2 separate regions of the Homo sapiens genome follow, and region 2 is linked to region 1. Evidence: fine-mapped expression QTL. A gene starts in region 1. The other region holds a variant in brackets. All regions are shown on one strand. Distances are between the middles of the regions. Region 1 holds the start of KHDRBS3 (KH RNA binding domain containing, signal transduction associated 3). Region 2 overlaps LOC101927845 (a long non-coding RNA gene).

Region 1 (4,391 bases):
TTTTAAATGATAAAGCTCTGCATTCCGAATATCAGCCTGTGATTTAAGAGAAAAATGTTTCAGTCTGAAGTCATCTAAACTAACAGTAAGACAAGATTCTGAGCAGCACCTCCTCCTTCCTTCACATGTGAGAAATATACTTCTTATAAGAATTACTTCTATGAAAAGTAAGTTTATCAAGTTGAATACCTAAAAAACACTAAATGGCAACATTTCCCCAGTAAATATCTGTTTCAAGTAACTGGAAGCCATTAACACTGGTAAAAACACAGAATCCAAAAGAATTTTGGACGTTTTAGCAACACAATACTATGGCAACACGGCAGAGAAAATAATTCTGACTTTTAAAATAAGATAACGCACTGTACTTTCAGTTTAACTGTTCCTTAATTGAGTACAACCTAACTTTGATTCAGCTACTTTATTAGGAAAAATGCACTTGAGTCCACAGTCCAGAATATTTCCAATGCCACGGATCTCATGCAATGTATGAAGAAATTTCTTTCACAGAGATGACAGCCCAGCAGGCAATAAAAGATACATGTAAATCATCAGGCACAGGAGTACAAACTCAACTGCAGAACTGTTCAGAGGGCATAGAAATAAAACTTAATTTTTTTTCTTTTATTTAGGAATGCATGCCCATTCACTTTTTCACAAGCCCATTTTATTAAAGAAATAAAAATAAGCCTGCAATTAAAATAAAATGAGGGAGCTCCATAAGTCTATTTCTGTTCAACAATTCAAATATTCTTAAATTCTTGGAGACAGTAAAGAGTCTCTCCTCCACCATCGGTCAACCACACACACACTCTACTCTGAAGAACTGGTTGAAACAGGCAAAAACTGGAGGTCACTGTTTTAAAATATAGGTATCTATATACAAATAGAATATGTCTGCCTCATCTTTCACTTCCAACAATAAAAAAGCCAGGGCGAGCACTAAGAGCAGCAGATCCGATTCATCTAGGGAACCACAGACTGTCAGTGCACAGTAATTCCTGCAAAAGGTAACAGATCTGACCAGATCATGTTGCTGCCATTTCCCAGAGAAAAGACAGACCAGTGGCACCCACACCCATCTTCATCTGAAACACATATTCCAGGAAAAGTAGGAGACTGCTCCCAGGAAGGAAGGCTTAATTTACCGTGCATGCCAGCAGATGATTCAGGAAGCCACAGGAGGAAAAAGCCAGGGGAACACTGTCCCGGGTAGGCGTGCCTCCAGAAATCTCTGTATCCCTGACCCGCAGTACTTCCTAGGATCTTTCACACCCTGAGCTGGCTGGAGTCGTGTGAAAATGGCAAGGACTCCCTTCACCACTATTCCGAACCTCAAGCCAGCCACCAATGAGGGTCACCCAACCCAACGCCCTCCGGAACGGTGCTCTTTTGCCGGCCTCTTCTCCCCTACTGACTTCTCCAAGGGCCAGCCTGCAAGGCTTGGCATGGGCTGCCCATCCCCTGGGAGGGCTGACTGCCCCGCCAGGGCTGTTGGAGCCTGGACACAGGAGAGACAAAGGGCTGGGAGGGGGAACTGGGCTCCTCCCCTGGGACCACGGAGCTCCTCTCCTCTCAGGTGCTGGGGTCTGACCCCAACCCTCTTCCAAGGTCCCCAAACTTCGCTAACAATGCAAGCACCTGTTCCCTTCACCTCTTCTGCATTTGAGTCCCTCAAGTCCTTCCATTTTCCTCCAGCTTTTTCTCCAGTACCTTAGACAAACCAAACGCCCTACTTCCCCGAGTCCAACACGCTCCCCTTCCATGACATAATTCAACCTCGTTCCCAACGAAGCCCCCAGATGGTCGCTGTCCCCCACCCAGAAGTTTCCCCTGGGTGTGCCCGAGTCCCCAAAGATTTCCTTCAAGTCTCACCCATGCGCCCCAGCCTTCTCCTTCCAAGTCCCCAAAATTCACATCAGGGTCTTCCCCTAGGTGTCCCACAGCCTCCCAGGTCCCCGTGCAAACGACCCCGGGGGCCACCCGGGCCTCCGTCTCCGCCGCGTCCGCTGACAGCAGAGGGCACGGAGGGGCCCCCTGGGCCCCCGCGTTTCCACCCGGCCCCCAACCGCCGCCGGCCGGCAGTTAACGGCCGGCGCCTCACCTTGGTTCACCAGGCGCAGGGCGTGCGTGAAGGAGGGGTCCAGGGAGTCCTTCTCCGCCATCAGCTCGGGCAGGTACTTCTCCTCCATGCTCGCCGGCCGCCGGGCCCGGGATGTGGACTCCAGGCGCACGGGGGGCGGCGCCCGGCAACCCCCGACCCCGCCCGCGCCCCCAGCGGCGGGGACCCGGGGGCCAGACGCGGCAGCAGCGGCCAAGCCGGGCGGTCGGCCGGAAGGCGGCGGCGGCGGCACGGGGGCGGGAACCGACCGCTCAGCCCCGATCCCCGGTGGCCGCCGAGTACCCAGCGCCGGCGGCCCCCGCGCTCCGGGCGCGGGCCGAGGAGGAGCGGGCGCGGGCGGCGCGGTTAGGCGGGCCCTCGGGCCGAGCGGGCTGCGGCGCCCCTGAGGCAGTCCACGGCGATCCCCGCCAGTCCCGCCAGCACCTGCCAGCACCCGAGCCACAGCTGCGACCTGCACGCCGCGCGCCGCCCCGCGCACTCTGAGCCACCGCGCCGAGCGCCCAGCGCCTGCCGCCGGCCCCGCCCCGCCCGGCTCCGCCCCGCCCCGCCCCGCGCCCGCCGCCCCGCCCTGCCGCGCCGCGCCTGCGCACTGGCGCCCACCGCCCCGCCGCCCGCCGCCTCCTGGGGCCGCTCTCCACTGCGAGTCCGCCGGGACTAACCGGGCGTTTGCGAGAGGGGGTGCGTCCAAGGGCCCCTCCCGCGTGTCCGGCGCCCACCTTTGGCCCTGAGGGCCGAGTGGGGAGCCCCACGACGCTATTACAGCCTTTCAGATGCACGGACTGGGAAACTGGGGCTCAGAGAAGTCAAGTGGCTCGCCCAAGGTCACCCAGCGAGTGATCCTGGGAAGAGGGGACAAGGGCCGAGCTGGAGCTGGGAAGGGCGCCCCAGTTCGCCCCAGTCGCGCTCTGAGGAATAGCAGCGGGACCGCCCTGCTCTCTAAAGCTTCCTGGACTTCTCTAAGTTATGTCGCGTTGCTGTCCCCTCGTACTTATAAGAGAGTAAGGCAGGGGCGCCGTCCTTTCTCCGCGCCTGAGCTCAGAGCGCCAACCTCCTGAGATCCGCCAGCTCAGAGGTCGGTTACATAAAAGCGCGTGCCCTTCTGGGCGTCTTTGTCATCCCGACTTGCTCCTGGGTTGTCATTCTCTTAGGTCATAAACCGGCTGTGCCTGGACACAGCTGAGTGAGCCGCGTCTGAGCTCATCCGCTCCTGGGGAGAGGCCCTGGGACGCCCCGCCTGTCGGTGGCAATGCTCTCTGTCCCCTTCCGCCCACCCCCAACCCCCAGCAAATGCTCTCCAAGGCCATTTCAGATTTCCCGAGGCATGTGGAATAAACGTCCCCCAGGAAGGCGAAGGACTCCAGTCCTTGCCCTGCCATTTTTCCTGCCTTCAAACAGCCAGCTCAAGTCCCGGCCTCAATGTCACCTTCCCTGGACAGCCTCTCAGGACCTCCCTGGCAAAGCAAGTCACAAGTCCCTTCTCTGTGTCCCCCCAGCTTGGTCAGAGGTCATTCACAGACAGCTGTAATTCTGTTTTCAGTAGACCATGAGCATCAGGGACAGAGTTTGAGTTTTGTTTTTGAGGGGGAAGGTCACCAGTGTGTAGTACAGGGGGCAGGGATGGAGGGTACTGGAAATGTCTCTTGGAGGAATAAGTCAGTGGCATACCACTCTCAGCCAATAGCCTGAGGACAATCGCCACAGTCCCCCAGGCAGCCCCCCCGCACTCCCAATGCAAATGGAGGCAGCTTTACAAACCCGAGGGGAGTGGGAGGTGGTAGAAATCTTGGAAGCTCTAAGTCCCAGACCCGAGTACTCAACTGCCCTCACTCTCAAGGCTCCACTCCTCCCCCGGCTAAGGTGTCATTTCAGAGTCCCCAGTAAGAGTCTTCTTCATGGCTCTCTTCAGTCTCAACTTGCAAGAAGCAGAAAAATGGCACAGTTAAAAGCAAAGCCTCTGGGGTTAAACAGCCTGGATTTGGAATCATGGATCTGCTGCTCACTAGCTGTGACCTTGGGCAAGTTTCTTCACCTCAGGGTCCTCATCCGTCAAGTGGAGATGACAACCAAACTTATTTCATAAGAAGTTCATGAGAATAAATATGTTAACTCATAATGAAATACCCAAAACAGCACTCTGCCTATCGGAAATGCTGAGCTGATCTTTGCTTTGGGTTTTTTCCGGCTGCAAGGCTGTCCTCTGGGCCTTCTGAGCCTCCCTCGCCTTCCCTTCAGCTGTAACTCCAGGGATGCTGGGCAGACACCCATCTGT
Region 2 (4,391 bases), 600 kb after region 1:
TTTCACCGAAATGATCAAGGAGGAACCATTCATTCAAGTTAAACAGTACTCTATAGGGTGAATCTCTCAAAACAGAAAAAAACAGGACAGGATACCAGGTAGTATTTTCTTGGAAGCAGTATTGTGTGTGGATTGGGAGGCCTGTGCTTGAATCCCAGCTCTTATACTTCCTCTCTGTGGGGTTTTTGCAAATTTCCAGCCCCTGCCAAGCTTCATTACTGCCATCAAAACAAATGGGGTTAACAGATCTAGCACATAACTGGCACTCCAGAAGTGAGTGGAATATAAAATTAAACATGGAAGGAAAATCAATAGCCCTTGTTACATATAAATTTTAAAATATTATGTATAATATTATATATATTGATATTATATATAATTATATATTATATATAAATGTCATATATATATCCAAAAGCTTTCAAAAATAAGAACACCATGCTTATCTGTCATTGTACATTACTAAGAGCAACTTCAGAGCTCGTGGGTTCAGATGTTTTCAACCTGGGGCCATGCACCTCTATGGGTTCCATAGATGTGCAGCCTTCCAAGGTAAGATGTTATCTGTATCCTTGCCTTCCCAGTATTTATTGCTCTGTCTTATGGTAACAATGGCCTAATTTTCTTTTGGGAAACCACCCCCATTCTGCTCTCCACCAAGATCAACTGGAGCCCACCCACTCCATGTAATAGTGACAAGCATGGGGCCAGCCGAGCATCCAACCCTCTACCCACAGGGGTTGTGTTGGGGCTGGGCCAGACATTTACCAGGACCATAAAAAAAGGTTGTGCTTTTTCTATTGGGGTTGCTAGGTGGGTAGAATACCAGCCTGTGCTGCTGATGGACATCTCTGCCATCACTGGGAGAGACCCTTCCTAAAAAGAAAGCCAAAAACTCAGAGAGCAGAGGCAAGATATAGACCTAAGTTCCTCCTGGCATCTTTGAGCTCCTGGTTCAGCATGTCTAGGCCACTTCTACTCCAGGATTTATGAGGACCATGAACTATTACATTGCTTTTTGGTAGGTGCCAATTTGAGCTGGGTCTCTGTTACTGGTGAAGAAAAGAATCCTAACCAATACAGGAAATTTCATCAATTCCTTGAAATATATGCAAATTTTGCATAAGTATGTTTATTTTCCTGGAGAGAAGGAAAACCCATTCTTAATGGGCTTCTGCACTAGAAAAATTAAAACTGCCTGTTCTAATCCAATGCCCTCATTTTACAGATGAAAAAGCCAAGACCCAGAGAAAGAGTCATTGCCCCAGGTCACATAACAAGTGGGTGACACGGACCGGAACCCAGTTCTACTGACTCTCGTCCTCACCAGTGGATCCCAACATCGGACCCCCCAGCGGCATCACCGGGGTGCTACTGACCATCACCTGCTCAGGTTCTCCCCTAGATCAGGTAAGTCAGAACATCTGCAGAGCAGATTTGAGCACTAGTATTCTCAAAAGCTCCCTGGAGGACTCACATGTGCAGCTAGGGTGAGAACCCTTTCTTAGGATATGAAAACAAAGATGAAGAAACACAATCCAACTGATCCAATACTCATAAATTAAAATTAAACAAATACCTAACATCAAATATCTTATACCACTTGAACACTGAGCTAGGTGTGGGGGTGCAAAATTGAAAAGGACACAATACCTGCCCTGAAAATAACTTCCTCTCTTGTGTAAAAGAAAGTAAGAACCATCCATCAAAGAAAGTGCTGCATTTCATCAGCCGCAGAATGGAATTCTTGGCAGCCCTGCCTTCAAATCTCAGCCACCTGCCTCTCTCTTCATCTCTCGAATTGAGTAAACAAGTCCTTTAGAAGACACAGTCAAGTATTTGCGTCTGTTTGAAATAGTCCCCTTTAGGGAACGTAAGGCATTTAAGTATATTTACAAAAATTCCTCTTGAGGAATGCAGTATATAGATAAGTTCATTCCTATATTTTTCAAAGGAGATGCTACTGTCATGAGGTCTTTTTACATCATCTCCCTGAACTGTCTCACCCTATTTCCACTCGATTTTCCACCTATTACAGGAATTGTCATGTGTTAAGACTTCAACCCAATAAGTATTTACGAATCCCCTCCATGTCCCAAGCTCTTTGCTGAGTGCTTGGGGATGGAAAGGATAAACAAGGATACCAAAAGGAAAAAAACAAAGTTACTGCTTTCAAAGAGCTAACAGTCAAATGAGGGACAACATGTTAGTATTCATTTCTAACAAAAGCAAGCTGTGATAAATGTTTAATTATGGTTATAACTCCACTTATTAAGTGTCTGCCATGTGCCAGGCACCTTACTAAGTACTGTACATACCTTATGACATTCCGTTCTTATGACCCCACTGTTGAGTAGCTGTCATCTATCTGCATTCCACAGGTAAGAAAACAGACTTGGAGCCACCTACTCATCTACCCAGTCTCAGCTAGTTAGCAGCAGAGCCATGATTGGCTGTTGGGTCTGCTTAATTCCAAACAGGTCCTGAGC[A/G]CCCCCAGCTGAGTACGGACTACATCAGGATCCAGGAAAACCAGGTTCATGATGGAGCCTCACTGCACATTTCTCCATACTGGAATACAGACGTGAAGATAAGAAACAAGATTCCTGCCCTTAAGGAGCTCATGTCTAGGAGGGAAACTCAAACAACAATTTTAGGGAGTGTTAATCACTTTTTAAATCAAATAATTGGTATCATAGAAAATAACTGGTACTGGGGAAAGCATAAGAAATCGTATCTGGGGAAATTTTTGAAGTCAAGATCGGCAGAAATGGATGAAAGAAATAAGGTGAGGGATCTAGAAATTGGGAGGTAGTTGTAGCTAACAATGCTAACACCTCTCACCTGCAGTCTTCTCCAGAGGATGGCCCTTGGACAAATTGGAGTCATCTCACCTGGAGATCACTTTGGTGCAAAGACAAAAGACACCCCACCCCTCAACCTATAATAAATACATTACTGAGTCTTATCAAGGTAAAGTAACTTGTCCAACGTCATGCAATCAATAGGTGGTGCACCTGGAATTCAAACTCCCAAGCTGGGCCAGCACTCCTGGGACACGTTTGTTCCTCAGCCTGCCTTGTCCCATCGCATTTGATAAAGCCACACTTGAGAGGGAGTGACATCATCTAAGCCATGGTAGTATTTCTGGAGCCCATGGAAATGCCTGAACCCTGCCCCATCAATTACCCTTCCTGAGTAAAGAAGTCCTAAAAGATAGATCTACAAGAAACAGTGGTCATATAGGAAACAAAGGAACAAAAAACCTTTTCGTTATTAGGTAAGCCAGCAACTGGCACCTGAATTCAATCTTCCCTGGTACAGGTGAATTAAAACACACAGATTAGACCAGAGGCTAAGTGTAGCCTCTCTCGCCCCTACCCCCGCCCCGGCCAAAAAAATCCAATTTTGACTCTTCTCACTCTCTCCTCCATATTTAAGGTGCAAAAATGTGGGCTGGCACTATGTTAGAAGCGGCTTCATTAATACTGCTCCCCTAAATGGAAATGATAAAATTTGTGAATGAGGTTGCCTGCCAGCCTTTTCTATCTGGCACAGTTGTGCTGTCCAATACAGGAGCTATTAGCTACATGAAGTTATTTAGATTTGGGCTTAAATTAATTAGAATTAGATACAATTGAAAATTCAAGTCTTCAGTCACATTAGCCACATTTCAAGTACTCAAAAGCCGCACACAACTAGTGGCTTCCATAGCAGACAGTGCAGATGTAGGCAATTTCCACCACTGCAGCAAGAGGACACAAGAGAGAGAAACAGAGTGGGGAGAAGAGTCTCAGACCCTCTGTCTCAGAGGGTCAGGCAAAGCTCAGTTTACCCAACCAGCTCTAGTTGCAAAAGGGAAGTGTGAAGAGGGACATGAGAACCAGTCTCTACCCTTCAACACAAAATGAACCCACCCAGTGGCACTCGTGAGTATAGCCTAATCTGTACTTCAGGCTCCAACCAATAAATTCACATTTCCCCTCAAGGAGGAACAGAGGTAGGGCAGGCAGCAAAGGATCTGGTACCACTTTCAAGGTGTATATGATACTCCTATTAACCAAAAAATCAAATTTAAGATAAAGGAATGATCTGCAGCCTGGAGTAAGTTCATTTGCCATCCAGAATAAATACAAAATTCTGGAGAAGACTGAACTGATTGACCCCATTAGGGTTAGGTGCCCAGCTTTGGATTAGTCACGATGGTGAGGTTTTAAGAACCTGGCATCCAAGCATGTGGCTGTGTGATTGAATCATGACTACTACTTACGTACTTCCCTCTACAACAGACAGACAAAAAAGCAGGGACTGCTACACTGAGGCCTTATCCCTCACTTCCCTTCTTATGTTTGTAAGTCAGCCCTGGCTGGTTTGTCTCTGGCCTTTGAGATTTT

The links. PIP is the estimated chance that this variant, and not a neighbour inherited with it, causes the effect.
Region 2: its variant is the best candidate, but not a certain one, in a credible set for the expression of KHDRBS3 in lung (TOPMed, PIP 0.78).

Annotation. Positions count from the first base shown.
Region 1 is chr8:135,455,668-135,460,058 of GRCh38, reverse strand. KHDRBS3 (KH RNA binding domain containing, signal transduction associated 3) reads right to left here and starts at 2,603. Exons shown (of 9, transcript NM_006558.3): 1 at 2,105-2,603. The coding sequence starts at 2,192. LOC101927872 (a long non-coding RNA gene) reads left to right here and starts at 2,084. Exons shown (of 4, transcript XR_002956731.2): 1 at 2,084-2,177. RefSeq lists a silencer at 2,432-2,731.
Region 2 is chr8:134,856,190-134,860,580 of GRCh38, reverse strand. The region is part of intron 1 of LOC101927845 (a long non-coding RNA gene); the gene reads right to left. Among named protein-coding and RNA genes, the nearest start is that of NCRNA00250, 20 kb to the right of the region's middle. The variant A/G (reference allele first, on the strand shown) is at 2,490.